Regions from separate parts of the Homo sapiens genome. Here all the other regions are reported to be linked to region 5. Evidence: microRNA targets listed by miRTarBase, many of them from high-throughput screens and not tested one by one. Region 5 holds a microRNA gene; each other region holds the end of a gene's coding sequence.

Region 1 (4,077 bases), not on the chromosome of region 5:
GCTGGGATTACAGGCGTGAGTCACCGTGCCTGGCCTGAATGTCTGTTCTTTATAAACTACCCAGTCTTAGGTGTTTTGTCACAGCGGCCCATACTGCCTGAACCACGACTTTCTGCGCTAAATGCCGTGTTGAAGAGCCCAGCTCTGGCGCCGGAGGCTGCGCCCAAGGCAGGCACGGCTGTTCACGAGTTGCGTCACCTTGGGCACGTCATCACCTCTCTGAGCCCCGAAGCTCCTCGACAGAAGTGGAATCAACAGTGCCCATTTCATTCAAGTTGTCCGGGCGAAGAAAATGGAAAATCATGTCCCTTAAGCGCAATACCTGGTAAAAAATCTCACACTGAACTGCGGCCATGACAACTCCAGCATCACCCAAGGAGCCTGGACACCGAGAAGGGCAGAAGCCTGTGCGGCCCAGCCCCCGCAGCGCGGCGAGGAGGCTGCACCAACCCTTGGTCTTCAGTCACTCAACCTCCCTGGCCCATTCTGTTTCCCAACTTAAGAAACAAAACAAAACATAGGTATAGAGAAGGATTTCACTATCGAAAGAGAAAGCGCACTGACAAGTGATCACACTGAAGCCAAGCTGGAGAGCCACATCCTGGCTAAACGCAGGGCCATTTTCTATCCGGGTCACCTGCCATCAGGTGGAGTTAAGGCCGATATTGCCCAATCGTCCTAGTTTTCAAGCAGTTCCAGAATTCCTGTTATGTGAACTCACCTCGTTTAACACTTGCTGTAACTCTCAATAGAGGATGTGAAGCACGCAGCACACACGTGCAGCTGAATGCTGGCCAATGTGGGCCGCTGAGTGGGCCGGGCCCAGGCTCACACCAACCTGGCACCAAGAAGTCAGAGCTCATGAATGTCGCTTGTACCATGCTCCACTATAGCTACATCCCCTCACACTGCCGGTCAGGGAGACTGAGGCCAGTGAGGACCATGGGAAAGTGCTGTGCCATCTGGAAGGTGTACGCATCATTAACATTTCACGAAGCCTTTTCCACCCCTAAACCCCCAACTTCAGGCTCTGCACTGAGGGGTCCCCGGACCAATGTGTGGGTGACACTGGACGGAGCGGGTGAGCCTGTGCTTCTCTACAGCACCTCCATCTCTATGCATCCACACACGCGTATGAAGATACAGGAGGTAAAGTGTGGACCCCTGGGAAGGTCAAAGTCCTAGTGGAGGTGAGATAAAAATTAGGCTGTCCACTTCCAACTCCAAATCGAATTCTGAACACATGATGAATTTATCATTATATTTTCTATCTCCAAGATAAAGCATTCACAGCAATATGAATAGGTTAGTTTATTTTGAGAGAGAGGAAGACATCATTTGGGTTCTGTAAACATCAGTCACTTTATTATGCCTCTGTCTGGCTGAAAAACACCAGCTCCTGCTGACTCCACAAGGGCACGGCTGCAGAGAGTGCTGCCTGCCAGGTGTGAGGTTTCCAGTTAAAAGTTTCAGCAGGGACACCATTTGCTGGATGTGTTTAAGATTAAAATTGCTTCGTAAAATGTGATAAATAGGTTACTATACACCTTGGTCAATATAGTTAAAGCACCAGCAATCAAAATACACCGCTCCGGGCCGGGTGAAGTGGCTCACGCCCGTAATCCCAGAACTTTGGGAGGCCGAGGTGGGCAGATCACTTTTAGTCAGGAGTCAGAGACCAGCCTGGCCAACATGGTGAAACCCTGTCTCTACTAAAAATACAAAAAATCAGCCAGGCATGGTAGAGGTACCTGTAATCCCAGCTACTTGAAAGGGTGAGGCAGGAGAATCCCTGGAACCCGGGAGGTGGAGGTTGCAGTGAGCCGAGATCACACCACTGGACTCCAGCCTGGGAGCCAAAGCCAGGCTCCGTCTCAAAAAAACGAAAACAAAAACTAAACAAAAACAAAACACTGTTCCGAGAGTTCCATAAAACATAAGGAACGTAAGTCACACATGATTCTCACGAGCAGCCGACGTTTTCCACGTACATTTCAAAGGTGCTTGTGATAAAAAATAAACTTTGAATTTTAATTGCACGTTTATATCAAAACACTCACACACACACACACACACACACACACAATTCTGTATGTCTGTTAACAACATTGCTAAATTGCTGTGTAACTTCTACCTGGGTATAAAACAGTAGAACAATGTACCTTGGGACTCATCATCAGGCAGCTCATTGCCAGGGGCTGCTGCAGGACCACTCTAGGGACCCCAGGACCCTGCAGTCGAGCATCTCTGAGGGGTCCAGGTCCACCCTACAGCTCAGGGAGAAAATGACATCACTACTTGTCTTGAAATCTACAGAGGAACACCAACCACAGAATTAGGGTCTAGATTGGGTGCCTGTAGGTAACTCAGTCAATTAAAAACAGCTCTGAAACCCAGACAACCTGATTATGAAATCCTTACCTTATTTTGTCAAATGAGCAACACAGTATGAATAATAACTTCTCATTTTAAAACAGGTACCATGATTTAAAAAAAAAAAAAACTTGCAAGATTTCATCTTTACCAGCCCACGCTCTGGTTGGTGGGGGTTAAACTCCAAGGCGTCTCTGCTGCTACAGGAGTCACTACCCCTCAGCGTTGTCTTTGTACCACTTGCCACCAGATGGCACTGCCGTACACTTCGGTCTAGAATTTTTTTTTTTTTTTTTTTTTGAGAGAGAGTCTTGCTCTGTCACCCAGGCTGGAGTGCTGGAGTGCAGTGGTGCGATCTCAGCTCACTGCAACCTCCGCCTCCCGGGTTCAGGCAATTCTCCTGCCTTGGCCTCCCAAATAGCTGGGATTACAGGTGTGTGCCACGACACCCGGCTAATTTTTGTAATTTTAGTAGAGATGGGGTTTCACCATCTTGACCAGGCTGGTCTCGAACTCCTGGCCTCAAGTGATCCACCTGCCTCGGCCTCCCAACGTGCTGGGATTACGTCGGGTGTGAGCCACCCCACCCAGCTTAGAATTTCATACGCTGGGAAGCTTTAATAAGGAACAAATCATGTTATTTTCTATCTTAGCCCAATTCTCTCCAACTGAAAAGAATGTGACTTCTGAATAAGACACACGGCATATGAGTGTGCAGCTGGAAAGAGTCAACGCTGACCCACCCGCCCTGTGGGAGGCACTTCACTATGAAGCCATTTCCAGCATTCAAAGCCACCCCACTCCTCAACAGGTGTGACGCCCCGATGCCTGGACACCATGGACTCCTCTCCTAGATGCTTGACACGGTCCGGCGCGGCTAAACTGACAGAGCCTGCCAGACAGTCATAAAATTATAATTTCTTAAAAATACTTTGTAGCTACTTCAAAATTAATACTAATGCGAAAGAAAGTTAGTATTTCCCTTAGAAGTAAACACAAAACATTCACTGCCTCATTAATTCAAAAGCCATCATTCGCGGGGCTTCCCAGAATCGGTGTGCCAGCTCTGCTGCCGCCCCGGAGCCCCGGCTGGAGCAGCTATGGCCTCTTCTTCCGCAGCAGCTGCCCGTTGCCTTCTGGCCTGCTCTTGGCTTCTGGCTGTGCGAAGTTCCAGTCCACCGGATTGAGAAGCTGCTGAGTCTTCTTATGGGTCCAATATGGATTAATGATTAGCGTAAGCAGAGCCAGTCCGACAAGGAACAGTGTCAAATGAGGCAGATACAGGCTGCTGACCAGGCCGTCCCAGTGCCAGAAACACACCCACCACATGTGGTAGGTTAGAACCATGCGGCAGTGAAACATGTGAATCATCAGCCACTGGTTGAGCTTCCAAAACAGAGACTCGGACCAGCCCGCCTGCATGGAGAGAAGACAAATGCACAAGTCAATGCGAAACTGCCAAAATTCATTCTTCACATCACAAAAAGGTATTTGCTACCTTACTTACCAAACAAAACAAATTCATTTCAAAGCAAAAGAATTTCCTCCCCAGGGCTCTGCTCTCATTGGGACTTCATTCTGAAAGGAGGCCACCAGCTCTGTGGGCGCACCTGGGCCAGCAGGGCTGACCCTTGCCCGCTCATGCTGTTTTCCTGCTCCTCTTGCTCTTTGGCTTCTGCTCCCTAAAGCTATGATAAATTCAAC
Region 2 (4,077 bases), not on the chromosome of region 5:
GTGTTAGGAAAAAAGTGTGTATTCTGCTACTGTTGAATAGAATGTGAGCTAGAGCAGAGGACAATGTTCACATATTGAACGTCCTAATATATTCTCCCATTGATAGGATGAGATGAAATCTGTTCTACATTTTCATGTCAACATAATCACTGCACTTTAATAGTATCCTTTTCAAGGTTCTTTTTAAGTTTGCACACAGATTTGAAAAATCTCATTCCCCATCCATTCTTTTCCACCAGGCTATGAAATGTATATTGCTCTTATATTTTCCATTCATATACTTCAAGGCGAAGATTGAGATACTGTAAACTATTCTCACATGAGATGTGATACAGGCTAGGTAAGAGCATGGATTTCGGGCTGAACATAGTGGCTAAAGCCTATAATCCCAGCACTTTGGGAGGCCAAGGCAGGAGGATTCCTCCAGCCGAGGAGTTCAAGACCAGCCTGGGAAACAGTGAGACTCCCTGACTCTCCAACAAAAACAAACAAACAAACAAACAAACAGCCAGGTGTGGTGGTGTATGCCTGTTGTCCTAGCTACTCAGGAGGCTGAGGTGGGAGAATCACTTGAGCCCAGGAGGTTTGAGGCTGCAGTGAGCCATGTTCACACCACCATACTTCAGCCCAGGCAATAGAGCAAGACCCTGCCTCAAAAAAATAAAAAAGAAGAAGCATGGATTTGGACTCAGATAAGCCTATGTTCATATCCTCATTCTGCTACTTAAGACGTATGTGTTCATGGGCACATTGTCTTTATTTGTATTTTTTATGAGGCTTTTGTGAACATTTTGATAGTAGTGAAATACCTGTGCATGGCATGAATAAATAATATATGGCCCTGCTATTATTTTTGTTGTATGTCATATGAGGGAATACTGGGAAAGGTCCATGTACGTTTTCTTTCTGAAAAGTTCTGGTAATGCCTAAATTCCTTTATTAGTCATTTATCCATACATATCAAGCACTGCCCTCATTGAACTTTATATTACATTGTGGATACCTCCTAAGAAGAGTATCTTATTCTTAGTTCCTAATCCTTTTCAGTCAGTCTGTTTATTGGTAGCTGCTCTCAGTGACAGGGGAAATCAGGCAACATGGTAACGAGCACCTACGAATATGGGGTCCTAGAAAGGGAAGTGAATTCTACAAAGGAGAGCTGACTAGGATCAGTCCTATCGCTCCTATTGGAGGTAGTCATGTCCACAAGCCAGCAATACCTGTGCCATATACCATGAGGTTAAGCACCAGGAAGACACCTAGAAATACACTTTCAAAAAATCAAAATAGTAAGGCAATAGAAAAAGAAGGCATAATTTATTGTGTCTATTATGACTAGTGTTTAATAAGACTTATAAGAAAATAATCAAATTATTAGATCATTTAACATATATTCTGGAATTAGAAGCAAAAAAAGTGAGAACATAGCTGAGCTCCATAAACATGCAAATTATATTTTTATTCAACAAATATCTGTTGTCCCAACTTATGCCAGGCACCCTGTTAGGCAGTGAGGAATGTGAGAGTGACTATGACAAATGTGGTTCCTGTTCCTAGTGGGGAAGGAATATAAATAATAGTATCAGAGGTATGATGACAGAAGTGCAGGAGCTGAGAGTCAGAAAGGCATCTAAACCCAGGCTTCCCTGAAATGACCTGAAGCATGAAATGCGGAGGATTAAGGATTTCAGGAAGAAGGAGCAACCTGTGAAGAGGTTTTGTCAACTCTGACCTCTCCAGAAACATTTAGCCACAAGAAAATCCATAATTTAGTGGAGAATGTCTAAAACATTTAGTGTTACCCAAATTCAGCTCAAGATGAATCAAATGCAGGATGACAATGTACCCCATTTCACAGTTTTCCAAAGAAAATACTGATAATGATGAAAAGAATGACAGCAGTTCAGGCTTGTTGATGCATTTTATTGTGAGATGGGAGTCTGGTAAAAAACTAGAAAATGACCATGATGTAACAAGGAACTTAAAAATGAAGAGTCAGATCTGTAACTTACATACATGAATACAGGAACAAATTGGCACAAAATGTTAAACATTGTTCCCAACACTGTTTATAGAAGTTAATCCTAATTTGGCTTACTAAGGAAATGAGAGTTGTATGGTTAGGCTGATTTCTTAATAAAACTGCAGAGCATCATGCTATTAGTCACACAGTGAATTTCAAAATTTAAGTTTTATATTAAAAACTGGGTAAAGGTAAAATGACTTGATTGTAGTTGTAAAACTAATACATTCCCATTTAAGTTCTGTTCTACAGTCCAAGGCAAGTATAAATGTTAACATAACACTGTTAAATCAAATCTCAATGCAGGAGAACCAATTGCATCTCTACTTTAAATCTTATCAACTTTCCAAATTTTCATACTAAAATATATTATTGTATTAATACAAACTACAGTATTATACACTACACTGTGTAATAAATAAAGAAATATAAAAATAAGACACATAAATATAAAAGTTTTCTAAAACTAAAAGTACATATGTCAGTAAGAAGGGTATTAATACTGCCAGGTTTGAAGACATACAGTACAAAAATGTTGCACAGATCTATAAACTAAAAGAAATAAAATAATACTGATAGGTAAAAATCAGCTAATGTTGTTAATAAATTGGGTCCATAATAACTAACATTTGGAAACAGTTATGAGCCAAATAACAATAGCATGTCCATGTCTGAAATGCAAGTACATGGATAAAGCAGATTAGAAAATTTCCCTTTCGTTTCTGTAGAGAAATTCTGAAAATCAATCAACATAAAATCAATACCGAGGAATTGAAGGATGAAATGTCCCAGTGTTTCAGTTTCTCTGACAGAGTCAGTGGTTTTAAGTTTTATTTGGGAATTTTGATACAAGAGACAAATCAACAAATGCTAGTTATTGTAGGCCACACATTGGATGAAGGCGGGTTAGAGCCTTGAAAATACTGAGAAATGGCACTTACAGCACACAGGTCTTGCTTAAGGCCAAAGGAGATACAAAGCTTCATGTCATATCCTTCATATGTTACCACATATTCAAACACAATCACAAACACTGATTCTGATGATTTTGCTGTCCTTATCAGATTAACATTGTTAGTCCCTGCAATCAGAACTCAATGGCAATCTTTTGAACTCCATTTTAAACCACGTGAGTAAGAAACTTCAGTTCTTCTATCAGCTGCTTTCTTAAGGCTAACAATACACTTTAAATGATAATACGCTCTACTAAGACATCTAAATATTAGAAATTACTACCTTCTAGACTGAATTTATAAAAGGTAGTTAGCACGGGTTGGAACTACATTATACTTCTCTGTGAAGGGAATTTTGTAGTGCAGAAGTTCTCACATTTTAAAAAACATAATAAAATACTGAAGCGGATTTAGCATATGTTTACCAATAAAAAATTATAAAATTTCTCCCAATTGTACAGCTTAAGAATAAACCAACATAAGAGTGATAATACTGATAAGATAAAACAATGCCAGATGCATATCTAATTAATCAGCTTCCTTTAACCTCTTGTATTGTTGCTCTCTGAGTCATTAAGGTTTTCTAATCTGCTGCATGTTACAAACTTGTTCCTAACTTTGAAAACTGCATGAAAAATTACTAGGTCTGAGGTTCAGGCACACCCGGATTTATTTTGTGTGTGTGTGTGTGTGTGTGTGTGTGTGTGTGTGTGTGTTTTGTATTTTGTATTTTTTTAGTTTTTACTTTACACAGTAGTGAACAGGAATCACAGCATACAGGTTACTGTGTTTCCATGAAAAGCAAGGATAATATTGAACGAAATTCATTATCAATTAGAATTTATTTTCCTTCTAGAAAAACGATTAGGCTTCATTTGTCTTTTCTTCAGACACTTGCTCACTACTCTCGCCTACTTTTTGTCCTAAGCTGCTTGCTTGACTTTCAGCCCTGTCATCCTTCATCAGACCTTCAGTTTTTGCTTCTTCTCCCTCATTCTCTGCCTCTTCTACCTCTTCTTCTTCCACTTCTTCCTCCTCCTCCTCCTCTTCCTCATCCCCTTGTGGTTTTTCACATTCTTTTTCTTCCTGCAATTCTTCCAT
Region 3 (4,077 bases), not on the chromosome of region 5:
TCGAGCCCAGCTCTGGTTTATAGCAGGCTGTGGGCCAGAGGAGATGGTGGGAAATGGAGCCAAAAGGAAGTGCTTGCCGGGTGCCAGGGTTCAAGGAGTACAGGCCTCCCTGGAACGGGCGCCAGAGCCCTGGGGCAGGCCTGTCCTTTCCTGGTCCTTGGATCCCTTGTCCTGAGTAGGGCAGGATTCTGGGAGGTGACCTGGATTCTAGAAAGCCTGTTCCAGGTGGGCAGCCAGCACTGCAGTATGGGCAGGACGGGGTGACCCTCTGCCAGCTCAGGCCAAGCCGGGGGGTTCTGGAGTCAGTCCCTGTTTAAACAAGAGTCATCAGGTTTTGTGAGGACCTCAGCAGAGTCTGTCCTCAGGCAGGAGTCATTGAGAGGGGTCCTTGGAGTTCTGGAGCTGTATTGGAGGGGATCTGAGGTCTGTGGCTCAAGACAGTCCTTGTATGGGCTCTCAAGCGGTAGGGGTATCCTGCAGGGCCCCCAGGAGCATCCCTGATCACCCCTCTGCCCCTCCCCACCAGAGCTGAAGATCCCTGAAAACGCCAACGTCTTCTATGCCATGAACTCTACCGCCAACTATGACTTTGTCCTCAAGAAGCGGACCTTCACCAAGGGAGTGAAGGTCAAGCACGGAGCCAGCTCCACCCTCCCTCGCATGAAGCAGAAAGGACTCAAGATTGCCAAGGGCATCTTCTGAGGGCATCCTCCCAGGGTCTGGCTGGCTGGTAGCCAAGCACTTATGGACCAGAGTGGCCCAGGCCAGCTGGGCGCCTTCCTCCCACCTGCCAGCCCAGGGTACCCCAGACTCCAGTTTCATCCTGAACCTCTCCCGCTGCTGGGATTGACGCCTGCCATTGGTCAGGCTGACCTGGCCTCCCGTGGACCACTCGCTGCCTTAGGTGCCTTCTGCTCTCTGGAACCAGAGGACTAGCTGACTTTTGCCAAGGAGCAGTGCCAACGGGCATGGCATGGTGCCCTGCCTGCCCCCGGGCGCCACCTCTGTACACTTCCCTGACACCTTCCCAGGTGTGGGTCACTGCCACCTGTGCCCATGGGCACCCCAGAGCACCCACTGTGACCACTGCAGTTCTCTCATGCCCACAGGCACTGGCCTGTGACCTTCGCAGGGGTCCCGGCCCCTCCCACCACTCTAGCCTTTCTCAGGCTGCACCAAAGATTCCATCATCAGGGCCAACTGAGAGTGAGGGAGTCTCACCCACCGCTTACCCCAGCCCTCCCCTGGGAGCAGAGAGAGAAACCCTCTTCATGGACCAGACTCTGCACCCGGTGAGTGAGGACAGTCCCAGCTGAGTCCCATCGATGTTGAATCTCATGCCACTGCAAGTGCCATTCACCACTGCGTCCTGGGCTTTACGAGACCATGCAAGACGGGGGTTAGTGAGGAAGGAGGATTTGGGGTGGGGGTGGGGTGATTGAATATTTGTATAAAAAGCAAAAAGAAAAAAAAAATGTTTGTTTACTGATTGGGGAGGGGCAATATTTATTTGTTGTAAATAGCAAATGCTAGACTTGAATATTATATTAAAATCCTGTTTCTACTATACCCTGGTCATTACAGTTTTGTTCTTTCATTACCTGTCTTAATTAAAATGAGATAGAGACTCTCACATTCCGTGTTTAAGTAAGGACCCTTGCAGGGTTATCCAGTTATTTTATGCACAGGAAAAGCCAGCCACTCTTCTCAGCACACTGAAGGAAACACAAAAGTTTACCTTTCATACAGCAGATGTTCCTTTTGGCACCATTAAACTGGGAAATGTGCTGAGACAGCCCTCAGAACTCCTGGGACTAGAGTTTGGAGGTACTTTCACAAGGCATAGCAAGAATTTCTGAAATTTAGCTGTCTTTAAAAGTAACATTTGTGGCCAGGCGTGGTGGCTCATGCCTGTAATCCCAGCACTTTGGGAGGCCAAGGCAGGTGGATCATGAGGTCAGGAGATCGAGACCATCCTGGCTAACATGGTGAAACCCCATCTCTACTAAAAATAAAAAAAATTAGCCAGGCATGGTGCCAGGCACCTTTAATCCCAGCTATTCGGGAGGCTGACGCAAGAGAATCGCTTGAACCTGGGAGGCGGAGGTTGCAGGGAGCTGAGATCACGCCACTGTCCTCCAGCCCGGGCAACAGTGTGAGACTCTGTCTCAAAAAATAATAATAATAAAGTAACATTTGTGACAAAAGATGGCAGAGTAGGAGGCCCCAGGGTTCAGTTTTTGCACAGAAACAACGATTAAGCTGGAAGAAAGAAAACTATCAGAATAAACTGTTTTGGGACTCTGGAACCTGGTCGGACATAGTCACCAGGGGAACACTTGGTGAAGGGAGATGCTGCTGAACTCCAACAGTTAACAGGATCTCCATCAAGTCACAGGCTGACCAAGAGACAACAGAACAGAAACTTCGTGACTATACACAACAAGGAATACAAATATAAGCCTGGCAAAAATACGAATATAAGCCTGGAAAAGTCACTATGGACACAGAAGACTGCATCCTTCAATAAGCAAAAAAGCAATTCCTGAGGAGGGAGACAATCTGATTTCCAGAGTCACTGCATTATAATACTCAATGTTCAGTTCTCAAAAAATTACAAAGAAACAAAAATATGGCTCATTCACAGGGGAAAAGAGGATTTAACAGAAGCTATCCTTGAGGAAGCTCAGACATTAAAATTACTAGTCAGAGACATTAAATCACTTGTCCTAAATATGCTTGATGAGCTAAAGGAAACCATGGAAAATAATGTATGAGCAAATGGGTGATTAGCAATAAAGGGATAGAAATTATAAAAACCAACCAGAAGCTCCGGAGCTGAAAAGTATAACTGAGAAGAAAAATGTACTAGAGAGATTCAACAGCAGATTTAAGCAGGCAGAAGAAAGAATCAGTGTACTGGAAGATAAGGCAATAGAGATTATTCTGTCCAGGGAACAGAAAGAAAAAGGAAGAAAAATGAACAGAACTAGAGGTTCTTGTAGGACACCATTAAATGTACCAACATACATTTAATGAGAGTTCAGAAAAGGCAGAGATTATTTGAATAATGGTCCAGAACGTCCCAAATTTGATGAAAGACATAAATCTCCATATCCAAGAAGCTCAATGAGTTTCAAACAGGATAAACTCAGATCCATACCCAAATTTATTAGTCAAATTGTCAAAAGACAGAAAATCTTGAAAGCAGCAAGAAGAGATTCATCATATACAAGAGATCCTCAGGATTAACAGCTGATTTCTCATCAGAAACCATGGAGTCTAGAAGGTAATAGGATGACATATTTAAAGTGCTGAAAGAAGGCTGAGCATGGTGGCTCACACCTGTAATCCCAGCACTTTGGGAGGCCGTGGTGGACAGATCATCTGAAGTCAGGAGTTCGAGACCAAACTGGCCAACATGGTGAAACCTTGTCTCTACTAAAAATACAAAAATTAGCCAGGCATGGTGGCACATACCTATAGTCCCAACTATTTGGAGGCTGAGCCAGGAGAATCGCTTGAACCCGGGAGACGGAGGTTGCAGTGAGCCAAGATCGCACCACTGCCCTCCAGCCTGAGCGACAGAGCAAGACTCCGTCTCAAAAAATATTCTCAAAATAAAGTGCTGAAAGAAGAAGCAAAACATCCTTTAAGGATGAAGGAGAAATTAAGACATTCTCAGATAAAAGTTAAGGGAGTTTTATTAGTAGACCTGCCCTACAATAAATGGTAAAGGGAGTCCTTCCAGCTAAAATAAACACTAGACAGTAACTTGAAGCCATATGAAAAACTAAAGAACACTGGTAGAGATAACTAACAGGTAGTTAGCAAAGCCAGTGTTATTTCACTTTGGATTTGTGTAACTCATCCTTTTTTCTTATGATTTAAAGGTAAAATTCATAAAGCTATAAATCCACATTAATGGAAACAATGTATAAAGATATAATCTGTGACTGACAGAGGGAAGATGTGTAATAGCAGTGTATACTACTTAAATTCAATTGGTATTATTGAAACTAGATTGTTATATGTTTAAGATGTTACTTGTAATACCAAAAGTAACCAGTAAGAAAA
Region 4 (4,000 bases), not on the chromosome of region 5:
TTTGGTTTCCAATTCTTCAGTACAGTGACCTCTAGTGCTTTGGATCTTGAGTTCTAGGTGACTAAATCCAAAGTAGCTCCTTAGGATCTTGTTCTGGGTTTCCTAAAATAAAGGAGGAGGGGAAGGTGCTGGTACACATTTCTTTGGTAGATGGGTGTTCTAGAAGCCTTTAAAAAATCCTGAGGCTTCTTTTTATGTGTCTCCCACGTGCTCCAGGATCTGCCTAATGCTATGAACGCTGCTGAGATCACAGACAAGCTGGGCCTGCATTCCCTTCGTCACCGTAACTGGTACATTCAGGCCACCTGTGCCACCAGCGGGGACGGGCTGTACGAAGGCCTGGACTGGCTGGCCAATCAGCTCAAAAACAAGAAGTGAAAGCCAGACAGCCCTAACAAAGCACCCCACCCACCCCTGACATACCTACTGTCACCCTGCCCCAGTCCTACCCCTTCCTCTCCATGCAAGTGTGGCCAGGGCCCTGGGTATCATGTCCACATGCCCAGCAAGAGCCTTGCCTCCCCTGCCTCCCCTCCTTTTTCCTGTCCACCTATATGACCAATCCCTAATTGCTGTCCTGATGATGAGTCATTCCAATTTACTGGATTTAAAACAAAAAGTTGTTACGGTTTCATGGGGTGGCCCCTCTCTCTCTCACCCTCTGGGTTTCGGGAGGTCGAGTGGGGTATTCTCTTTGTTTGGCAGTGGTTGCTGTCCTCTTGGCATCTGAGTCCTTTCCCTGTCCCCACAAGCCCTTCTACTCCCTGTTTGCCTTTCCTTTGCCACCCTCTCCCTGTTTTACATGGAAATTGCACGGGCCTCTCTGTGTTTGCGTGCATGTGTGCGCCTGTATATACATGTATAGAGAGATATATTTGTGGGGGCCGGGGGGAGCGGGGAGGGGGTGGAGTGAAGCTCAGGGCTTGCAGCCAGGACACTGCCCACTGGAGCCTGTCATCTGCCCCTTCCGTGTTGGTGAGATTAAGGGAAGAAGGTGGGAGGGCATTAGTCAAGCCGGACTGCCCCAGTCTTTGACTGGTTACCCTCCTCTCTGCAGGTAGGTTTTTCTGGATGATAGGACAGATGATGGATTCTTCACCACCATTTTCCTTGTACTCTTCTCTCCACCCTTCTTAGGGCTGGAGGATGGCATTTATCTCTAGATGACTGTTCCCAAGGAGATGCCACTCTGCTCTGCCTTACTGTTGGGAAGGAGAGAGGAACCCACTCACTCTTATCAGCTTAGAGTGTTCAACTGATCCTTCCCCACCATCTTCAGATCTGTTCCTCTGGAGCTTGACTGGGGGGTGGGGATGGCAAGTCCATGGTGTGTGTTAGGGACCCAGGGCATTGGGGGAAGGGAGGCGAAGGCCTGAGGTTTTCCATCTTCATTCTCTTTTGTTATTAGGAGAAGGTGAGGCATGGGCCAATCCCATTCCTGCCTTCCAGTGCCCCACCACCCTTCTGATCTTAGGGGTTGGATGGGTCATCTGTCCTTGGTCAGAATTTTCTCACCCTAGTACTCCTACTGGCCTGACCAGGGCTGACTGGGTATTCTAATGAGGAGCTGGGAAGTGGGGTGACATAGCTGACCTTAGTATCAACCCCCCTCTTCTCCAACTCTTGTTTTCTAGTCCAGGATATGCTAAAGGACGAAGATTTTCTATTGTTTCCAGGCCCTCAGACCATCCTTGCTGTCCCTTCACCCTCCATGCCCCTGCCATCCTCACTCACTTCTCATAAATGGATCTGGGGGTTAGAGTGGAGGAAATAAAATCCTGAAGTGGTTGTCAGTGCTTGTGGGATGCAGTGGTCTTCAGGATTCTCCCCGCATTATTATGTAGTTGTTCAGAAGCTGTTGCTACTGCGTCTCTCTGTCTGCAGGGGGCACTTGTTCCTGAGGTCCTCGCCTGGGTCCTGACTTCTGTAGTTTCTGTGAAGACGTGGCTGTCCTGTGGGCTCCTGTGTGTGCTGGCTGCGCCCTGAGCTCCGAGACAGCTGCCCATAACCTGCTAAGGTCAGGGCCCAGGGCCCCCCACAGCATGGCTGAGGGACCCCTTCCCAGTAGGGCTGTCCCAAGCCCCACTCCATGGGGCCAGGTTTCCTGGCCACTTTTGTTGATAGCAGATGGATCAATATTAGTAACCCCATCCAAGATTGAACTGTGAAAGAGAGGTTCCAGGGGTATCTCCCTCAGTGCCAGTTACTTAGTGATGTGTTACCCAGGATGCAGCAGGTGTGTGCAGGTATCTTGCTCTCTAGGCCTGTGTGTGTGTGTGAGTGTGTGTGTATATGGGTGTGGGTGTGTTTGTGTGTGGTGGTTGTGGGGGGGGTGTTGGAGGTTCTATTTCATTTAAAAATGTATTCATTTCCCTGGCCCCACAGATGCTTCCCTCCATACTTTTTATTTGCTCTGTTTCCTCAGATTTATTTTGTCTTGCCCCATTGCCTCTCCTTCCTTGAACTCTTTCCTTTTCAATCTCAACTCATTCACTGCTGTTGCTCATTTGCCCTTTTCCATGTATTTTTTCCTACTTAGGATTTTCCACTCTATCTTTGTGGTTCATGAGGACTTTGCCTCTTCTCCTGCCTCATTCCCTGACTTTCTCTAGTTAGATGTCAGTCCTAAATAGGTTTTCCTCACTTCAGGCCTCACCCCTCACCTTGTTTTTTTGGGGGCTCCAGGGACCAATCTGGGGCTGGAAATGTTAGGAGGTTGCCTTGGTGCTGCCCCAGATCTGTCCAGCAGGGGGCAGTAAGTGATCTTGGTAGTATCCCTGGCTGCTAAGCCCTTGGCAGGGGTGGTCCTTTCTACATTCCCATTCACTTAACAGCTCTTTTGGGATTGGGTGTTTCATTCCATTTCTGCCCACTCCCTCTCCTCTCCTCTCTGGTAGGTTTAATTTTATGCTTTCCCTGATTCCAGCTTTCTGCTTCCTGAGGACTCCCGCTCCCCCCACCCCAAAGTTTGTCTGTGGTGTTATAGTGGTAACTGCAGTTCCTCCTCTGGAATGTAGACTGTATATGTTTAATAACTCACCTTCTCTATCCTTGCTCAAAATGTGGGATAACGCGATGACTGTGACCCTGGTTGGAAATTAAACTTGTTTTATGCAGCTTTGGAGCCGACCTTCATCTTTGCTGTGCAGCAGCCGTGGGACAGTAGTTTCATGGTGAGGGGAGTCCTGTTTCTGGTCCCTCTCTCCATAGTGCTCCTTCTTTCAGCAAAGGGGTAAAAGGCACACTTGATTGATAGAGAGTAAGGTTATGGAGGAACTTAGTGCCACTCCACACTGGTTATTTCTTCCCATCATACCCCGCGGCGGGGGAGCCCAAATGAATTGGGCATCAGAGTGTGAGGGCTTCGTGACTTTCCTCCTCTAGTTCTAAAGGGTTTAAACCTGAAATCAGCTGTATTTCTCACCTGTTGGTAGACTGTATGGACTTCACTGGCTGAAGGGCCCTGAACTTGGAGGGCCCCATGTGCCTCTACTCTCAGATCTCCTCAGCCTTGCACATGAGGTGCTTCTAGTTTGAACAGAGACCCCCTCACTAGTCTAGTTCTGGACTTTGGCAGTGAATAAACATGAAGGATAAACGTCTGGGCAGTGTAATGACCTTAATCCTTCTTACAACTGATGGCCCTGCATCAGCTCTACTTCAGGCGTGTGGTTTTTCATTGTCAGGATGCCAAGCCTCATCCAGAGATCCCACAAATGTCTTGAGGAATAGACCTTTTCCATAAAGCCTCCATCCTCCCATCGCACTCCCACCACTATTCTGTTCCTCCCCTGCTACCAGTGTCTGGCTCCAGGCAAAGAAAGGGATGGTGCTACCTTTAGGGTGGGTGAGGTCTGGGTGAGCCAGGCAAGCCTTCCCCAATCTTAATATTTTCTTAAGCTTTGAGGACAGAGGTCTTCCCAGCCTGCTTTTGTGGGAAAGGGATAGGATTTAGGCATATAATAAGTTTGAGAGCCCCAAGTACCAGTGTGAAGCATAT
Region 5 (4,077 bases):
GATTGTCCTCTGGGGAGATAGACCAGCTAGAAGGGCAGAGCCCTGTAGTGGGGGTGTGTGGGAGCAGGACAAAGAGTCCTCGGGAGCAGGAAGGGTGGAGCATTAAGCAGTGTCTAGGGGAGAGCGGATGGCTTTGGCCAAGGTACCCAGATGGAGCTCTGAGGTCCACGGGAGGTAGTTCCTGGGGGTAACATCGCCAAGAGGTCTGCATAGTTTCTGGGCCAGGGCACCTGCTCTGACCCTTCCAGGATATTTTCTAGCCACCCTGCCTTCTGGGCCACCGCTGACCTGGAGTAGGCTGAGACTCTAGTGGCCACTCTGCGGAGGCCCCAGCTTGCCTGCCCTGGGTGCCAGCTCCCCAGAGACCCTCCCTCCCACCCTCTCCCTTCTTCCCGTCCTTCCCCAGGGCCTGTGACACCAGAGGCAGGGCCTCCACAGCAACTTCTCTCTAGGCAGCTGCTCTGGCAACCACTGATGCAACCTTCCCAGCCCCTCCCTCGCTCCTGAGCCTCCGCTTTCCTCCGCAGTCACTCCAGAGCCAGCCAGGAGCCACTCCCTTGCTAGAGTGCATCCGTGCCTCCGGCTCCCTCCAAGCCACCTGGGTGGCTGCAGGACTTCTCTTCTGCCCTCCTTTCCTGGCCTTTTCCTGCCTTGATCCTAGGCCGGCAGCAGAGATGCCCAGCCTGGGCGGTTCACAGTCTGGCCCAATCTGGTCTGGTTTGGGATGGGAGTGGGGGTGAGCAGCAGATTCGGTTTGTTCCTGGGGCTCTGTTTCTGCCACAGGGCAGGCTGGGGGGTGGAGGATAATGGAGACCAAAGTGCCTAGGAGCCTGGGCTGCTGGTGTCTGGGCTCAGAGGCTACGAGAGGCATCTTGGATGTCCCACTGGTCACTGCCCCTGTGGCAGGTTGGGTAGAGAGGAGGCTCTGGCCAGCTGCTTGCCTCTCCGAGCCAGAGTTACTCTGGCAAGGAGATGGATGGTCCTGACCCACTCCCTCCCCAGCCTGGAGGCGCAGTCTGGGTGATGTGGAGGGATGTGGGCCTTCAGGTGGAGATAGGAGACACCTTGGTGTGGTCTTCTCCTCTGCAAGGCCAGAAGGTCAGCTCCTCTCCCGCACTGTCCCTGTCTCCTTGAAGGTCATCTTGGGCTGATGGGGCATGTGGATCTTGTGAAGAGGTGGGATGGGGTGGGGGGTAGAGACCGTAGCAGCCGCTGCTGAGGGCCTGCTGGGGGGCCCCCAAGGGAGTGGGCAGGCTAGGAGCAGGGAACGGGCATCGTGGGCCGCTGGTCTCTCCGCAGGGTCGGCAGGCCGCAGAGTGTGACTCCTGTTCTGTGTATGGCACTGGTAGAATTCACTGTGAACAGTCTCAGTCAGTGAATTACCGAAGGGCCATAAACAGAGCAGAGACAGATCCACGAGGGCCTCCGGAGCACCTTACCCACTTCTGCCTTGAGTGCTCCTAGACGTCGGAAACAGGCTGCTTCCAAGGGTGCAGGGATGCAAGGCCCCTCGTCCAGTGTGTCCCCAGAGAGCCCGCACCAGTGCCATCTGCTTGGCCGATTTTGGCACTAGCACATTTTTGCTTGTGTCTCTCCGCTCTGAGCAATCATGTGCAGTGCCAATATGGGAAAAGCAGGACCCGCAGCTGCGTCCGCCTCCCCTGCATCCTTGTGTCAGGGCCCCAGCCTGCTCCTCCTCAAGGCCTCCTCACCGCCTCCCCAGCCCATCTGGCTCAGCTGCTGTGTGAGGGCCCAGCGCTGGTGGGCAGCCAGATCGCCTTACACTGCCTGGGGCCACGGTAGAGCTGGGAGCCCAGCAATCTGAGCTGGGCCAGCAGATGGGGCCGCCCAGGGCAGAGGTGGGGGAGTCTGAAACCATCTGTAGGGCCATCCTGAATGGTGCCGTGGGTTGGAAAGGCCCAGCCAGGCTCCCAGCACACGCTTGGGGTGAGACCTTGGCTGGCAGCACAGGGCCTGGTCTTTTCTGCTGCAGGTTGTGAAGGGGGCAGCTCCAGGCAGGTGGGCTGCCCTTGAGGTCAGCCTGGGTGTTTCCAGGGGGGCTACCGTCTCTGGAGCTGTAGCCTGCTGTGGAGTGGGTCATCTCCGAACAGCTCCAAGAGGAGGATACTTAGTGGGGCTCGGAGTTGGAGGGCATTTTCAGGCCTGCCCCTAGAAGGTTCTGGAGCAGAGGCCAATGTTCCCCTTCACACACCACACACTGGTAATGTAGCTTCCTGGGTCCCTGGATCTGGGCTATGACTAACTGGCCTATGCTCTCCATCTGGGTGTCAGGTGACATTACATATATAATCCCAACAGTTCCCACCTCAGCCCTGTGGGGCTTGTAATTTTTTAAAATAGTTATCTCATAGATGGGGAACCTGAGGCTTTGAGAGGAAAGGCTTGGCTGAAGAGGTTGGTGAGTGGTAGAGCTGGGTCACTGTGGCTCTTCCGCCACCAGCCACACCTTCCATGGAGGCACCCAGGGCCTGGAGGTGTCTCAGCTCTGAATCTACAGGCCTGGGCTCCCAAGGATGCCCCAGATGGCAGAGACTGAGGCTGGGAGGCCTGGACCTAGTCTGTCAAAGCTGGGGAGAGCCTGGCCAGCCAGGCTGGACCCATGTGAAATCTGGTGGTCAGCAATCAAGCAGGAGACCAGTGGCCGACTTGGGACCAGCTGGGAGCTATCATGCCCCAGGTCACTGGGCCAGCCCCTGATGGGGCTGCTTCTCCCCAGGGAGCCTCAGGCAAGGGTTGGTGGACTTAGCCCAGATCAGTGGGAGTCATTTTAGGTGTCTGAGCCAGGGAGTGCCCGGGTGGGGGATGTGTGTGGTTGAAGCTGGCAGCTGGAGGATGACGGGTCCAGTTGACTGCACAGCAGGAACATGGTGACCAGTGCTGCCTGCCTGGGTGCCCTGGGGACTGCCTTGGGTGGGTTGGGCCTTTTTTTTCTTGTCAGTTAGCTATCACCAAACCGCGAGGAGCCCCCAATAAATTCCCTCTGGGGTGTGGTGCCCGTGTTTCTCTACAGAAGCTCTCCAAGCCCCTGCAGAAAAAAGGAGGGGCTTGTTTATTTCAGGATAGAAGGGGACTTCTGCCCTGGTGAGGTGTCCCTGTAGCTAGGTCTCTCTTCTGATGGCCCCAGCTCTCCCTCTGCCCCTCGGAACCTGGCTGGCCTGTGCCGCACCCTGTCTCTGTGCTCCAGTCCTCCGCCCCGGGTGCTTCCTTAGGGCGTCCTGCTGCAGGTCCCATGGGATAGGAAAGAAGGGATTTCCCGGCCTGAGTGAGAATGAGCCCTGGAGGTGGGGTGGGCACAGAGACCCAGCAAGGGGGGGTGGAAGGCCCCTGGCAGTGACCGGTTCTAGAGCTTTTCCCTGGAGCCTCTGGAGTGTCTGGCCAGGGTTCTGCTCCTTCCTGCCTAGCGGGGAAGGCCGGATGACAGAAGCTGCCCTCAGCCCCTGGGTGGTCTGCAGCTGGGCTCCACCTCCTCACACCTGCCCAGGTGGGCGCCTTTGCTGAGCCCCGAGTGCAGGCACTGGTGTGGGGGCGTGCCTCCACCAGGCTTCAGGCCCGGCTGCTCTGGGGCCCTGCTCCAGCGCTCCAGGGGAGGACCTCAGGCCAAAGCTAGTTTCTAGATCTCCTAATTTACCTAGTTCCGGGCCAGACCTGGGTGGTGAGTTCACCCACAACAGTGACTGTCCCAGAGAGTGGGGGCCACCACAGCTGGCCCTCCTCCCTAAAGACACAATTTCCTACCACCCAGGCTGGGGGCACTTAGGATAGGAGAGGGCCCCTCTTCACCTCCCCACCCTGCAGAACAGGTCCTGGATCCTCCCTTGTGTGGCTTCCAGAAGGTCTGTGAGATGGGCAAAAGGTTCTGCCCATGATCTGTCCAATGGTGTCCAGTGTCAGGCAGGAACGCTGTCCCACTGCAGCGAAGGCCTTTCTTGCTGGAGCGGGAGGGTCACTGAGAAGCACTTTTTGCTTTGTTTTTCTGTTTGTCAAAAGCAGCGGCTCCCAGATGCCCGGGTTTAGGGCGTCCCCCATGTCGGGCACCTTGCTTGGCCTGTCTGGGTG
Region 6 (4,077 bases), not on the chromosome of region 5:
AGTTCTGTTAGAAGGGTGATGCTTTTTGAGAATCCCCAGGAAAAGCCAGAGATACCTTTTCTTTCATTAATGGGACTTCCAGCCATTCTCCATGGGACATTTGAGATGGCCAAATGTCCAAAATTCCAAAAGGCTCCCCAGAGAGCGTGAGATATTACAGATGTCAACATCTGTAAAAATCCTTTCTGCTTAGAAGCAGATGGCAATATGCAATCTCATAACCACTAGCCAAAGGGTTCTAACATCTCAACAACCTCCGCTAGGTCTGTAGGGGTACCAGAGGACTCCTGGGCTCCAGTGTATAATTGTTTAAATTAAAATGGACCACCAATCAATGTTCACTTTCTTTAAGGAAGAAAACATAAAGCCTCGTGTCCTCTCTCCCCAAGAGCGAGTTGTGTTGATTTATTCCAGGCAGATGCTTTTGACAGGACCCTGTAAAATCAAGTTGTGAGTTTATTGTAGCAGTTAATTATCAGGCCTTTTCTAGTGCTAATGCCTTTTACTTCTTACTGGGGAAAACTGGGCCTTTTACTGGGACAAAGACTTAACTTTTAGTCAAGCATGTGTTAAAATAACATGAGATGGAGATGATTTAAATATATTTAAGGACAAACGCAGGAGCACTGCTAACTTGTCGTTTTGTAAAGAAAGCTGATTTCATTTACAAGTCTCTGGGAATACTCTTTGTTCGCTTCCCAAAGAAACAACGCTCTCAGCTTTGTTTTAACAATATGTTTACTCAACCATTCAGGTGACTGGAGATTCCAACCACACACCACTCTCCTGGGCTTAAGTCTGACACTACAGCTATCTTAGACTTTCTAATACTATACATATAGAAATCGTGGTTTTAGGTGCACCAAGAAGTGTCTTGAATACCTCCATAAAAGCTGGGAAAAGAGCGAGTTAGAAGCACAAGAAACCTTGAAAAGTAGGGGGGTGGGAGTGGGTATGAGGAAGTCAGAATGGGGGCATAGCTTCGTTAATTACTTTAGGCAGCAGAGAAATCTGGTTATGTTTTTTCAGCACATGTTAATATCAAATAAAGAGACACCAGATCTTGCTAATCTGTCGACCCCTCAGACAAAGTTTATTTGTGGTGACTTTTAAACTCCCGACTTGCCTTCCAATCACCGCGTTTAAAATGAAAAGCTTTAAACAAACACCAGGAATAGAAGATAAATAAACTTTTTTTCCCCCTTGCAAGTGCCTAGCTTGGCGAGGTTCAGGCTCAAATCCCTAGAGGACAGAGCGCTCTCTTTTGTGTTAATGTTTAAAAGATTTTCCAATGCCGGAGTTTATTCCTACTGCAAACATTTCTATTTACAAGGTCAAGTGTATCAGCACTCGACACAGCTTAAGAGTGTAATTATTTATCTAAGGGCGTTTGAGTGTAGATCAGTAGCTCTGGCAGGAACCCAGCCTTCAGCCACTGCTAAACAACTCCTCACAACAATATTACAAGTTCTGGTGATTGTTCCTTTCCCCTGTGTGTTTACTTTTGCTGGTCTGAATGTTTTGCAACAAAATTTTGTACTTTTTCACCAAAAGTGTGAAAATGACTTTGAAGTATTGAGCTTGCAAGCTTCCTAAAACCTATTGGTAACAGATGTTATTGGCATGTTTGATTGAGAATGGCTAGTAGCCAGAGAGGATACTCTTGGGGGTAAGGGGTGATGGGAAGGGGGATACAAAGAGGGGAGGTCTCAGGGGAAAAGGGGGAGGCGGGGCAACATGTCTGAGTTATCCTCAAATTATGTACAGGAGACACTATTTTGTGAATTCTCTCCACAAATGCAAACACCAATAGAAGCCAGTCAATTACATATTTTTGGCTGCCTCATTTACAGATGTCTAATTGTTCATTAAATTAAAGGCAGAAATAATTTCTTGTCTTGTACTGTATTTTCATTTCAGTTGATGGTTGATAGATTCTCAGTGCCCCCTCAACCCCCCTCCTCACCCATTATTGGGTTAACCACAATGTAACTCTGGAAAGTAACTACACCATATTCATTGTTTAAAACTCTTTACTGATGTACATGTTTTAATAAAACAAATAACCAAAAAAAATACACAAATCCATAGTTATTTAAAAACTTAGGATTTTTAAAAAACATGTCTATAAAAATACAACGTTTAAGGCAGTTTGGAAATGCATTTGTACATTTCTACAACGTCCATAAATTCTCTTGAAAATAAGAATGTTAACTTCAATTCTATAAAATACACTGTACATTTTAAGACTGTTCTAAATATAGCACACTTCACAATGGACTGTGGGTTTTGATTCCTGATGACAAATGGATTCTATACATTTCAGGGGGGAAAGGTGTAATATGGATGTGAGTTTAAAACTTTTAATTTCTTTTTAAAAATAAATTATTTCTGAAGCATACAATTTATAAAAATTCTATATACAAAGTACAGCAACTGGTAACAAACCCCAGTTTTAATACATTTTATATACGATGTACCAGGGTTTAGCAACCCTGATAGGAGCAGAGGCAATATACATTCTCCGCATATTTAAACATAAAATTTCTTGATGTAAAGAACAAAAATGACAAAAAAACAAACATCATAAAGAGACTTTCATACATGGCAGTGCAGAGCTTTTTTAAATAAAAAGTTGCATTGTTCAACACCATGGCAACCCCTTAGATCAGCATTTTTGGACCCTTAATCCTAAGAAATGTGCTAAGAGATCAGAGTGGTAGCAATGAAATTAAGGTCAAGGGCTCAAACTTATCCAAAACCAATTTAGGGGTTCCCTCTAAGGCAATCGCCACCCACCCTCACCCCCACGTCACTGAGAATTCTGGGCGCAGATACAAACAGTGAAAGAATGAATCGGTAAGTGGGACTTTTCTGTTTACATAGGATTATAATATCCTCACTGGCCACAATCTGTAAAAGTCGATACTGGCACTTTTTTTTGCCCCCTCAAAGGAAATATGCTAATAGACAGCCCCTTTGCAAATATAATTCCTCCTTCCCAACCCTTCAAATTGCTAAGGCCCCACTGGTCAGCACCTTCCCTTTCGAGTCCAGGACTACTGTTCTGTCCCCCACATGCTTGCTTCCTCCCGGACGTCCTGAACACTGCAGCTAGCTTTCTGGACGGCAGACGAGTTGGGAGTTTCTGGAGCTTGGAATTGGGGCGGGGGAGGAGGTCCAAGAAGTCAAGCTCCGGAGAGGAGCTTCAGGGGAAGTGCCCAGAGTCGTGGCCGGGGAACCGGCTACACCAAGTTGACTTGGAAAAAGTTTTGGGAAGTATCCCCAACCATCCCTTCTATCTGTCCCAAGCCACAGGTGCCCGGCGCGGGGTCGAGGCGAGCACGGGAGTGGGACGCGGGCTCTCCCGCAGCCAACGGCGGGGGGCGCGAGGGCTAAAAGAGCGGCCCAAGCAGCAGCAGCAAGATGGAGGCGAGTGGGGTCCAGGCGCCCCGGGGCGCCAAGCGGCCGCCGCCGCCGCTGCTCCTGCGCCCAGGCCCATAGGGCAGGTCCCCGCGGCCGCCCGATGCAGCAGCGCCGCTGCCCGGGCGCGGTGGGTGCGGGACGCCGTCGTCGTCGTCCAGCGGCTGCTCACCACCCGCGCCCCCGGTGCGCTGCTCGTCATCGTAGTCCTCATCGTAGTAGTCGTCCAGGCCCCCGTCCGAGCCGCTGCTGCCGGGGCCGTTGCCCAGCTCGGCGCCGAAGCACAGGCGGGCCATGTTCTCCTTGACCGACTCGCAGATGGGCCGCTCGAGGCCGTCGCACACGCAGTCGTTGAGCAGCGCCGCCTTGGGCATAGCCAGCATGTCCTCAATGACGGTGCGGCATTCGTCCGTGCAGCGCAGCCCGTTGAAGACTTTGCCGCAGTAGGTCAGGTAGCGGCTCAGCGCCAGGTTGCAGCGGCTGTCGCGGTCGCAGCGCCGCCGGGCCTCGGTGCAGCCCATGACCCCGCCCGCGCCGGGGCCGCCCGCGCCGCCGCCGCTCGTCCGGGGCAGGCACGGCTCAATGGCGCGCTTGGTGGACTTGCAGTTCTCGTCCTGCGCGCAGTCACAGTCCTCCAGGGCGGGCCCGCGGCGC
Region 7 (4,077 bases), not on the chromosome of region 5:
GTGGTGGGGGTGGGACTGATGGTAGTAGGATAACAGGGAAAGAGTAGGATGGTTTCTAAATCTGGGGCTGGCTCTGACTCTGTGTCTTTGCCAGAGCACCCAGCACAGAGCACCAAGCTGTGGAAGGGGGATTCCCCAAAGGGGACCAGAGGAAAATTATAGGTTAGGGCCGTATTGGAGAAAGAGCACAAAGACCAGCCTGGGCAGTTTAGGGTCTTTCTTGGGACATTAGCTATGAAAGGTTCATGAACAGGGGAGGGACAGAATCAAATCTATTCTGGGGTGCGAACAGGGCAGATGACCTACTGAAGCCTGGAGTAAGGTGCAGTCCACAGGGATGAAGCTAAGGGAGCTTCCACAGGCATTAGGCCCCCTCTGTCAGCCCCAAGCCCCAATGATGCACCCTCATCCGTCTTCAGGTTTCCTAAAACTCCCAGGTGAACTTCCATACTCCTGGTGTTGCCACAACCACATTGTCCTCCAGATAAACTTTGCCTGGCACTGATCGCCCAAGGCAGTGGCCCCAGGACTCTTCCACCTCTTCACCACCTAACACGGCTTGGAGGATCCGCAGAGCTACATCAATATTACATAGATGAGACTGCTGTCCTGCGGACCTCAAGAGCTGTGGGCAGCCAGAGTTCATCTCTCATCTCCATCCCCATTTACAAATGAGCACCTGAAGCTCAGCGAACTAAGACTGTTAGGGGCAGAGGTGACAGGATACCCTGTTGGCTGCCTCTTAGGCCTGGTGTCTTCCCCACACATCACATAGCTGTCTAAATTCTCCTCCATACAGGCGAGTCATGATCTGTACACAGTATGAAGCTGGGGGTGTGGCTGGTGATGGGGGAGGGGAGGTGATACCTCAGGGAAGACCTGTGCCTACCTTGGGGGCCTATGGACAGATGGATTGTTCTTTTCTAAGGCTGCAAAGTGGAATCCATCTACCTGAATGTGGAGGCCGTGAACACACACCGGGAGAAGCCTGAGGTAGGTGGGGGACTCCATGGCCCAAGCTGGCTGTGGACACAGCACATGGTGAAAGCACCTTATCCACAGAAAGGCTGCCCCAACCCCACCAAGCCTGGGTGTTTTGCACCAACAGATGGAGCAAACAGCACCCAGAAATGCAGAAACCACAACCCAGACACGAGGCACCATGGAGATGCAAGGCTGGGGCAATTCCCGCCTAAAAGGCCTCAGGCTGAGATTCCCCCAGGCCTACCTGAGGGTCAGGATCCGGGCCTGGCTGAAAGAGGGGAGCCTGGCAATGAAGACAAGAGGCAGGGGAGAGGTTGGGGCCCTGCACTGCTGTCTCCTTCCTATTAATCCTGCGCTCTCTCCTCAGAATGTGGACATCACCCGGGAACCTGAGGAAGCCCTGGATACTGTCCCAGCCCACTACTGAGCCCTTTCCAAGAAGTCAAACTGCCTGTGTCCTCATCGCCTTCCACCTTTAGGAAATGCTATCTTTGCTCTTCTCCTACTCTGCCTTGGCCTCACTGAGGCACCCCACTTCCAGTGAAGAAGTCCTCCGCAACTCCCAAACAAGCCTCGCTTGCTGGCCGCAACCAAGGAGCTATCTAGCTCTGGAGGAAACTTTCTTTCTTAATTCCTATTCTCTGACGAATAAAGACTTACTGCCTACAAGAGGAGAGGAGGAGGTCATGGCGAGGCTTTTCCAGTTGTTCTCAAGGTACTGACCCTAATCCTGACCCAGCTCTGCTGCTGTGAGGGCATGGAATGGGTGAGGATTTCCTGGAGGGAAAAGTTCTACAGTAGCACCTCCAAAGATGGGGGAGAAGATAGGTGCCTGTGAGTTCCTGTGGGCCTTGTTCCAGCAAGGTGGCTGTGGGCATGACACTTTCATCCTTATACTCAGGGAAGAATCTGGCACTTGAGCCAAGTGCTCCTTTCTTCTCCAACTCTTGCTGCCATCCTGAGTGATTTCACTGTTTATGTGAATGATCCAACCAATACTCTGGCCTCACAGTCCCCTGACCCCCTCAACTCCAGTGATCATCTTCTCCCCTTCAACCACCTACTCCATGGATTTTGGTATCATCTCCCTGGTCTGACTTCTTAAACGTAAGCATCCAACTGTCTGACCACTGCCCACCCACTACCCCAGTCCTTACAACTCTCTGTCATCCACTGAATCCCTAGCAGTGTGCCTCCATACAGTAGGCATATATGTAGTATTTTCTTCTTTTTTTTTGAGACAGGGTCTCACTCTGTCACCCAGGCTGAAGTGCAGTGGTGCAATCTCAGCTCACTGCAGCCTCAAACTCCTGGGCTTAAGCAATCCTCCCACCTCAGCCTCTCTCACAAGGAGCTGGGACCACAGGTGCACACCACCATGCCCGGCTAATTTTCAATTATTCTGTAGAGACGAAGTCTTACTATGTTATCCAGGCTGGTCTTGAACTCCTGGGCTCAAGCAATCCTCCCATCTTGGCCTCTCCCAAAGTCCTGGGATTACAGACATGAGCCACTGTGCCCAGCCCTGTAGTATTTTTTGAATGAACAATATTTGTTGCTGTACAGCATCAAGAGCAGAGTCCTTTGAATGCTCTATTGTCCCCCAATCTATCCTTAGTGTTCTGTCCCTAACTATGTTGGATACTATGGGCCATCTCTTCAGCCACTCTCCAGGCAGCTACCATAAGCCAGGTACCAGTGACCCAGTGGTAAAGAGACAGACTCATACACTTGCTGCCTTTGTTCCCTTGTCCTTCCATCACAACCACCCAGCAAGACCTAAACCTTGTATAATCCACCTCTCCTTTTGTTGTTGTTGTTGTCTACTACAGAAGTTGCTGATCCCTGCTTGAAGCAGATCTATATTTATCTGCATCCACAGCCACCCTTAAGTCTGTTCAAAGTCAGGGTTGTCTTCTCTGGTACCCTATTCCATCCCACCTTCTCAGGGATGGGCTACTTCAGTCAATTCCTGACTCTTCCATATCTATCTCCTGTTCCTGTTAGCTTTTGCCCCACAGTCTATACAATATGCCCAAGTTTTCCTCTCCTATCCCAATTAAACCCTCCCTTGTTCTTATGTCCACCCCTAGTGACCTCTGCCCTTCCCTCCATTCTTACACCAGTGATTCAAAATCAATCTGTACTTACTGTCCAGAAGCCTCTCCGTTTGCCTTCTGCTCCAGGCTTTCCCTCTCCATATCTTTCCTCAACCTGTTATCCTCTTGCCTGCCATGCTTTCCCCAGGCCTCTATCCTGCTGAAATCATATTTGCCTTTGAGCCAAAAGCTGGAGACCCACATTCTCCAAAGAGCTATGCTGATCTCCAGCTCTTCTACGAACCCAAGATGCCACTCCACAACTACCTAAGCACATTAAAAGACAGAAAAAACTCCAATTCATTTTGCAAATTTAATGTAACTCTGATACCAAAATATGACAGCACACAGAAAGCAAACAATAAAGCAGGAACAGCAAACAGATTTTTCCATCACATGACACCCTCAGCTGATTGGCCATAACTGCCTTGACTGCTGTGTGGACAAAGATTCCAAGGATGTACTTTGGCTCCATGGGAAGGACTACTGCAATTTATTAGCGGTATCTGTAAACATGGGGAATAAATCTGAAAACAAAACAAATAGGAACACATTTTAGCACCAAATACACTGTCTTCTCATAATTCCTTAATTGCCCTCACCTTTCCACCCTGCTGTCCTGCCTTAGTGTTTCTTACAACATCTCCCAGCTCTTGTACCCATCCCTGTGGGTCCTGGCTATGGAAATATTGCAGTTACCTGAAACCTCACTAGCCATACGAGAAGCCACAGGCACCAAGACTGGCGGCTCCACTGCCAAAGCCAGCACTGGTGCTCGGTCCACCACCAAAGCCAGCACCAGTGTTTGGTCCACCGCCGAAGCCAGCTCCTGTGCTCGGTCCACCGCTGAAGCCACTGGTGCTTGGTCCACTGCAGAAGCCAACACCAGTGCTTGGTCCACCGCTGAAGCCAACAATAGAACTGGGTCCACTACTGAAGCCCGTGCTGGTGCTGGGTTCGCCAGTAAAGCCAGTGCTGGTGTTGGAACCACTGC

The links. Region 5 holds the annotated microRNA hsa-miR-183-5p (UAUGGCACUGGUAGAAUUCACU, at 1,336-1,357, shown strand). A microRNA usually pairs through its seed, bases 2 to 8, with sites in the 3' UTR of a target mRNA and lowers its output. Matches are read on the target gene's strand: a 7mer-m8 pairs with bases 2 to 8, a 7mer-A1 pairs with bases 2 to 7 and ends in A, and an 8mer does both.
Region 1: miRTarBase lists CLN8 as a target of hsa-miR-183-5p. Seed matches in the 3' UTR shown: 7mer-m8 at 2,624-2,630.
Region 2: the mRNA of ZEB1 is a reported target of hsa-miR-183-5p. Seed matches in the 3' UTR shown: 7mer-m8 at 2,954-2,960.
Region 3: the mRNA of RALGDS is a reported target of hsa-miR-183-5p. Seed matches in the 3' UTR shown: 7mer-m8 at 1,350-1,356.
Region 4: the mRNA of ARF3 is a reported target of hsa-miR-183-5p. The part of its 3' UTR that is shown has no 7-base or 8-base seed match.
Region 6: the mRNA of GAS1 is a reported target of hsa-miR-183-5p. The part of its 3' UTR that is shown has no 7-base or 8-base seed match.
Region 7: miRTarBase lists TRO as a target of hsa-miR-183-5p. The part of its 3' UTR that is shown has no 7-base or 8-base seed match.

The regions. Positions count from the first base shown.
Region 1 is chr8:1,779,962-1,784,038 of GRCh38, reverse strand. CLN8 (CLN8 transmembrane ER and ERGIC protein) reads right to left here. Exons shown (of 3, transcript NM_018941.4): 3 at 1-3,789. The coding sequence ends at 3,472. Among named protein-coding and RNA genes, the nearest start is that of CLN8-AS1, 17 kb to the right of the region's middle. RefSeq lists an enhancer at 1-326.
Region 2 is chr10:31,527,028-31,531,104 of GRCh38, reverse strand. It overlaps ZEB1 (zinc finger E-box binding homeobox 1), which reads right to left. Exons shown (of 9, transcript NM_001174096.2): 9 at 1,301-4,077. The coding sequence ends at 3,841. Among named protein-coding and RNA genes, the nearest start is that of MACORIS, 180 kb to the left of the region's middle.
Region 3 is chr9:133,095,212-133,099,288 of GRCh38, reverse strand. RALGDS (ral guanine nucleotide dissociation stimulator) reads left to right here. Exons shown (of 18, transcript NM_006266.4): 18 at 527-1,567. The coding sequence ends at 702. Among named protein-coding and RNA genes, the nearest start is that of RALGDS, 24 kb to the left of the region's middle.
Region 4 is chr12:48,935,325-48,939,324 of GRCh38, reverse strand. It overlaps ARF3 (ARF GTPase 3), which reads left to right. Exons shown (of 5, transcript NM_001659.3): 5 at 217-3,602. The coding sequence ends at 378. It also overlaps a transcript of FKBP11 not described here. Among named protein-coding and RNA genes, the nearest start is that of FKBP11, 12 kb to the right of the region's middle. RefSeq lists a silencer at 2,647-2,836.
Region 5 is chr7:129,772,247-129,776,323 of GRCh38, reverse strand. MIR183 (microRNA 183) reads left to right here and starts at 1,310; the gene lies at 1,310-1,419. MIR96 (microRNA 96) reads left to right here and starts at 1,555; the gene lies at 1,555-1,632. RefSeq lists an enhancer at 2,230-3,091.
Region 6 is chr9:86,942,347-86,946,423 of GRCh38, forward strand. GAS1 (growth arrest specific 1) reads right to left here. Exons shown (of 1, transcript NM_002048.3): 1 at 2,016-4,077. The coding sequence ends at 3,396. Among named protein-coding and RNA genes, the nearest start is that of GAS1, 3.1 kb to the right of the region's middle.
Region 7 is chrX:54,930,737-54,934,813 of GRCh38, reverse strand. TRO (trophinin) reads right to left here. Exons shown (of 13, transcript NM_001039705.3): 12 at 3,783-4,077; 13 at 3,383-3,610. The coding sequence ends at 3,794. PFKFB1 (6-phosphofructo-2-kinase/fructose-2,6-biphosphatase 1) reads left to right here. Exons shown (of 14, transcript NM_002625.4): 13 at 929-993; 14 at 1,352-1,853. The coding sequence ends at 1,411. Among named protein-coding and RNA genes, the nearest start is that of SNORA11G, 5.5 kb to the right of the region's middle.